2 separate regions of the Homo sapiens genome follow, and region 2 is linked to region 1. The links come from fine-mapping of genetic effects on gene expression. A gene starts in region 1. The other region holds a variant in brackets. All regions are shown on one strand. Distances are between the middles of the regions.

Evidence for each region.
Region 2: its variant is fine-mapped to the expression of SNX12 in blood mononuclear cells (TOPMed, PIP above 0.99).

What each region holds. Positions count from the first base shown.
Region 1 is chrX:71,067,174-71,070,094 of GRCh38, reverse strand. SNX12 (sorting nexin 12) reads left to right here and starts at 1,761. Exons shown (of 4, transcript NM_013346.4): 1 at 1,761-1,953. The coding sequence starts at 1,789. RefSeq lists silencers at 1,546-1,765, 1,605-1,798.
Region 2 is chrX:71,019,028-71,021,948 of GRCh38, reverse strand. It overlaps the pseudogene RNU1-56P. Among named protein-coding and RNA genes, the nearest start is that of SNX12, 48 kb to the left of the region's middle. The variant A/T (reference allele first, on the strand shown) is at 1,310.

The DNA.
Region 1 (2,921 bases):
TCTACCTTTCTAAACACTTCCATCACACAGTCTGAATTGGCGATAAATGCCTAAAAATGCTCCACTGTTTCTTATCGCAAGGACTTTGTGTATTCTTTCTTTCTTTCGCTCTCTCTCTCTCTCTCTTTTCTTTTCCTTTTCTTTCTTTCTTTTTTTGATGGAGTCTTGCTCTGTTGCCCAGGATGGAGTGCAGTGGCATGATCTCAGCTCACTGCAACCTCTGCCTCCCGGGTTCAAGCGATTCTCCTGCCTCAGCCTCCTGAGTAGCTGGGATTACAGGCGTGTGCCACCATGCCCAGCTAATTTTTGTATTTTTAATAGAGACAGGGTTTCACCATGTTGGCCAGGCTGATCTCGAACTCTTGACCTCAAGTGATCTGCCTGCCTCGGCCTCCCAAAGTGCTGGGATTACAGGTGTGAGCCACCGCGCCCGGCCTGCATATGCTGTTTCTTATTCCAGAAATTACCTTTCCCTATTTCCACTCCTATTTGTCCTTTATGTCTTTTCATGTCTGTTAAACTCAGATGTTTCCTCCTCCAGGGGAACCTCCCCTAATTTTTCCAGTTATACATTTCCTATGTGCTGCTTTGAACATTTACTTATTTTGTATTTGTCGCATTATATTAGTTTTGTTTACTTGTCTCCCTTGCTAGAATGTTAACTCCTTGAGGGCAGGGACTCTTATTTAACTCCAGGATTTTAGTGTTTAGCATGGTGCTTGGCACGTATTTGCTTAGTGGATATTGGTTAAATTGAATTAAACAGCAATTGTGAAATTGTAGGGCCTCATACTCTGTTGAAAGAATTTCAGGCATCAGTGATATGGGAAATATTTTTTGAGTAGAGGAGGGCAGGGGAAAGGTGGAGAAAGGATGACCTGAAATCATCACCCAGTCTACCCTTTAATGTGGAGCATATGTAAATTAGTCATATAAATATTAATATTTCTATAGATATTCTCATGTAAACATTTATTCTATCTCCATTATGGGTTGCAAGCAACCTCAGAGCAGTGCCAAGTATGGAGTTCTGCGGAGTAGAAATAGAAGGTATGAAATAAGTACCCTCAATTTGCTGATAAATGTAAGATTGAGTACACCTGGAGTGTGGCAACAAGGAGTAAGATATGCCCAATTTTCCTGAAAAGTAAGAGAGAAATGTCTTTCTTTACCCCATCCTAGTTGCTTGCTGCTTTCCTGGCGCCATACGTAGTGCTGAGTGCGCCATTGTGTGTGGCGTGAACTGAAACCATCAGTGGCACAGGTGGGACGGCTACGTTATAGGTTCTCAGTACTATTGTTGGAACCCCACCCTCCATAGACCACCCTTCTATTTTCGCGGAAAACCAGGACTTATTCAGGTCACTGGGCTTCGGCCTATCACTGTAGGAGCCTGGCTCACGGGGCAGTGCCCACTGTTGATTGATACACGGTACGAGACAATTTCTTGGGTTGAGGAGCCGCGATTGGCGGAGCCAGCCTGTGCTGCTAGGCAGGGTATTGGGTACTGCGTATTGGGGATGCAGGTTCCCGGGTGGCCACAAACATCACCCGGAAGCCTGAATATGGCCTCCACTCTACAGGGCGCGCAGCAGTCAGCACGGCCGCTATTCAGAGCCCGGGGCCCAGGCCCGTGCGGCGTGCGCGTGCGTGCGTGGGCGCGCGTGCGCGCCGCCGCCGCCTGTGGGTTGGCTAGTTATTTTGCAAGCGGGAGGGGCCGTGCGCGCTCCTGCCTCAGGCCTCTGTCCCCCACCCCCTTTCCCCGGTCCCAGGCTCTCCTTCGGAAAGATGTCGGACACGGCAGTAGCTGATACCCGGCGCCTTAACTCGAAGCCGCAGGACCTGACCGACGCTTACGGGCCGCCAAGTAACTTCCTGGAGATCGACATCTTTAATCCTCAGACGGTGGGCGTGGGACGCGCGCGCTTCACCACCTATGAGGTTCGCATGCGGGTGAGTCACGGGGTGAGGGAGACAGCTGAGGGAGGACCGGGCGGCGCGAGCGGGAGGGGGGAGGGAGGCTACCGCGGGGGCAACTAACGGCGGGGAAGACGCCTTAGGGGTCATTTGGGGGTTAGGGGTATAATAGGCTTGGAACGAGGTCTGCCGATTCAGTTGTGGCCGGAGGATGCAGAAAACTCCTGAGGGAGACATCGGACGGGGATGCAGGAAAGCTACCCATGAGGAAGTGAAGCATGGCTGGATAGGGTGGGGTGGATGGAAAAAGATTAGAGTGAGGAATTCAAGGAGATAGGAATCACGGCTGTAGCGACTGAAGGAAGGGAGGGAGGATGGAAGAGGGCTGGGGGATGGAAAGCCAAGGCGATATATCGCTGAGCTCCATAACTAAACTAGGTTGTGAGAAGTCTGAAGAGGGAGGGCAGGAAGGCCGGCTGCTTTCTAATGAGGTCTCCCTGGGATAATGGAGTAAAGCAAAGCCTTGAATTAAAGGGAAGGTAGATTCCAGAAAAGGCAGACAGTAGGCTTGTGGGAGCAGAAATAAGAAAGGGAGTCTCCTTGAGACCGAGCGCTTTCCTAACTTGTGTCGGATCAGCATCTGAAGGAGAGAAATGTTTTATGCTTAAGTTTTCGCAGATACTACGTGCTGTCTCGCCTTGAAACCTGGCCTGGCCCTGGGATTGGTGCCTTGTCAGTCACTGCTTTCATTCTATGTGGATCCTTTAGATTTGAAGTATCCAGAATGTTTATTTCAGTATTTATTGACTCTCGTTTAGGTACTTTGTATATGAATGGCTTTTTGCCCTTTCTGTCCTAGATTACCCTTTTGGATTCTGACCCTGGTCTGTAGTTACTTTAATACATGACATTTCAGAATTGCCCAGGAGTGGCTTCTTCCAGCATGCATGATAGAGGACTTTACTCTCTAGTGCTTAGCCCATAATGCAAGGATGGAATGTGCA
Region 2 (2,921 bases), 48 kb after region 1:
TCAGGTAACTGCGATTTTGGCTTCCCGTGTCTGTATGAAATTGAGTTTGCTATTGTTTTAAACACCCCTGGGCATAGGACTTTTTTGGTGCTCGTTCTTTATGAAGTAATTCCCCTCCAGCATCTAAATTGTTATTTTTTTATGGCTTGCCTTGACTTTCGTTGTAAAATCAGCTCCAGGGGACCTAGTGGGAGTGGGGGAGATGGAAGCAGCCCCGTAGTCTCCCACTGTTCTTAGCCAAAGGTTCCACAGGTTTTCTTAATTGCTTCTTAATCCAGTTTTATCATTGTTTTAAGGAAGAGAGGATTTGCTGAGTTCCTCTGCCATTCCAGAAGTCCGGCCTAATTTATGGTTTTTTTTGTTTTTTTTTTTTTTGAGACGGAGTCTCACTCTGTCACCAGGTTGGAGTGCAGTGGCCCGATCTTGGCTCACTGCAAGCTCTGCCTCCCGGGTTCAAGTGATTCTCCTGCCTCAGCCTCCTGAGTAGCTGGGATTACAGGCGCATGCCACCACGCCCAGCTAATTTTTGTATTTTTAGTAGAGATGGGGTTTCACCATGTTGGCCAGGATGGTCTCGATCTCTTGACCTCGTGATCTGCCTGCCTTGGCCTCCCAAAGTGCTGGGATTACAGGCGTGAGCCACTGCACCCGGCCACTAATTTATGTTTTAAAAGATCATTCTTAAGTGTTCTTACTACAAAAAAGTATGTGATGTAATGCATATGTTACTTATTAGCTCAATTTAGCCATTCCACAATGTGTACATATTTCAAAACATCATATTGTATACCATAAATATATATACTTTTTATTTGCCAACTTTAAAAAAAGAACATTCTGTTAGGAGTGGAGGATGGAAGGGAAGCTGGTGACCAGGAGTATATAATTTTACTCAGCAGTACTTTGTAAGCAGGAATGGAGAATATAAATAGTTTGGTTGATTTGTGGGTGAGAATTGACATAATAGGGATGGTGGAAAATCAAGGGGATAGGAGAATAGGGAGTGTTGGTTACTGTTATTGAAGTCTCACTGTCCATGGACTCTTTCCTAAGTAGACAAGGAAATGCAGTCCAAAAGTACATGATGGCAATGGACTTTAGGGACTCAGGGGGAAAGGGTGGGAAGGGGGTGAGGGATAAAAGACTACAAATATGGTGCAGTGTATACTGCTCGGGTGATGAGTACACCAAAATCTCATAAATCACTACTAAAGAACTTACTCATGTAACTAAACACCACCTGTTCCCCAAAAACCTGTGGAAATAAATTTTTTTTAAATAAAGGAATTTGAGACCCCCCGCCAAAAAA[A/T]ACCAAAAAACCCAAAAGTACATGATGGCTTTGGAAAATAGGCAAGAGGGTTAATGAATTAAAGGCCTTGAGGCAGTTTAAGGGTAAATTCAGGGAGTATAAGGTTTAAGAGAAGTAGAACAACAAGTAGTTCTGAGAGTGGACCCTCTGTGTTTGGTTTTGGAAGTAGAGCCATTCCAAGTGTCACTCCAGCAACAAATAATTGATACCTGGCAGGGGAGATACCATGATCACAAAGGTGGTTTTCTCAGGGTGAGGCCCATCCATTGCACTCTGGGTGTGTTGGCCCCTGTGATTTCCCCAAATACAGGAAACTCGACTGCATAATGTGTGGTAGTGGGAGACTGAGTTTGTGCTTTCCCCTAAAAAAAAAAAAAAAGAAATGGATTATTGAAAGGGAATGGAGATGAAGAAGTTAGAATAGGTTATGTCAAGGATCCATGAGGTTTGGGTGTTATATCATCAAGGGGGATAATGAAGACTTTCAGGATGAGAAGAGAAAAGGAAAACAGTTGGTACTGAAGTCCTCAGTGAATGTTGGGGGGAGACTTGGAGATTGACATTTAACATTGAGAGGGTCATAAAATTGAGTATTATGAACTTTGAAGAAAGAGGTTATTGAGGTAAGATGGTAAAATAATACCTTGGGGATCCAGTGAAGAAGATACAAGAAGATGATAACCTGATCTTGACTTATGGGGAGATATGAGCAAAGGAAAATGAACAGCCTCAGCTGGGCATGGTTTGTGCACCTGTAATTCCAGCTACTTGGGAGGCTGAAGTGGGAGGACCACTCAAGCCCCAGGAGTTCGAGGCCAGCCTGGGCAACATAGAGCAGGAACACTGTCAGAAAGAAAAGAAAGAAAGAAAAAGGAAGAAAGAAAAGAAAGGAAAGAAAGGAAAGAAAGAAAGAAAGAAAAGAAGAGCCTCAAATGAAGAGCTTTGCCAGGGAGGAAATAGCAGCACAGTTCATGGTTTGGGATGACCAGAGTTCAGGTAAGAAGATGAGATAGAGGCTGAATGGATGGGCATGACCAAAAGCTGGAAGGTTTTAGGGAATGGTGGCTAGTTTTGGCTCAAGCATAGGGTGCAATTAGTTGTATAAGAAAAAGATAATATTGGAATCTATGTGATTAGTTGGAATCCAGAACATAACTAGAGTCATTATTGTTAAAAATATTATTCCTGGCCAGGTGCAGTGGCTCACTCCTGTAATCCCAGCACTTTGGGAGGCCAAGGTGGGCAGATCACGAGGTCAAGAGATCGAGACCATCCTGGCTAACATGGTGAAACCCCGTCTCAACTAAAAATACAAAAAATTAGCCGGGCATGGTGGCGGGTACCTGTGCTCACAGCTACTTGGGAGGCTGAGGCAGAAGAATGGCATGAACCTGGGTGGCGGAGCTTGCAGTGAGCCGAGATCGCACCACTGCACTCCAGCCTGGGCGACAGAGTGAGACTCCATCTCAAAAAAAAAAAAAAAATATATATATATATAAAATATATAGTATATTATATATATAATATATATTATATTATATATATAATATAATATTAATTATATATATATTTCTCTAGACAGTAAACTAAGGAAACTTTTTGAAATTGTTTT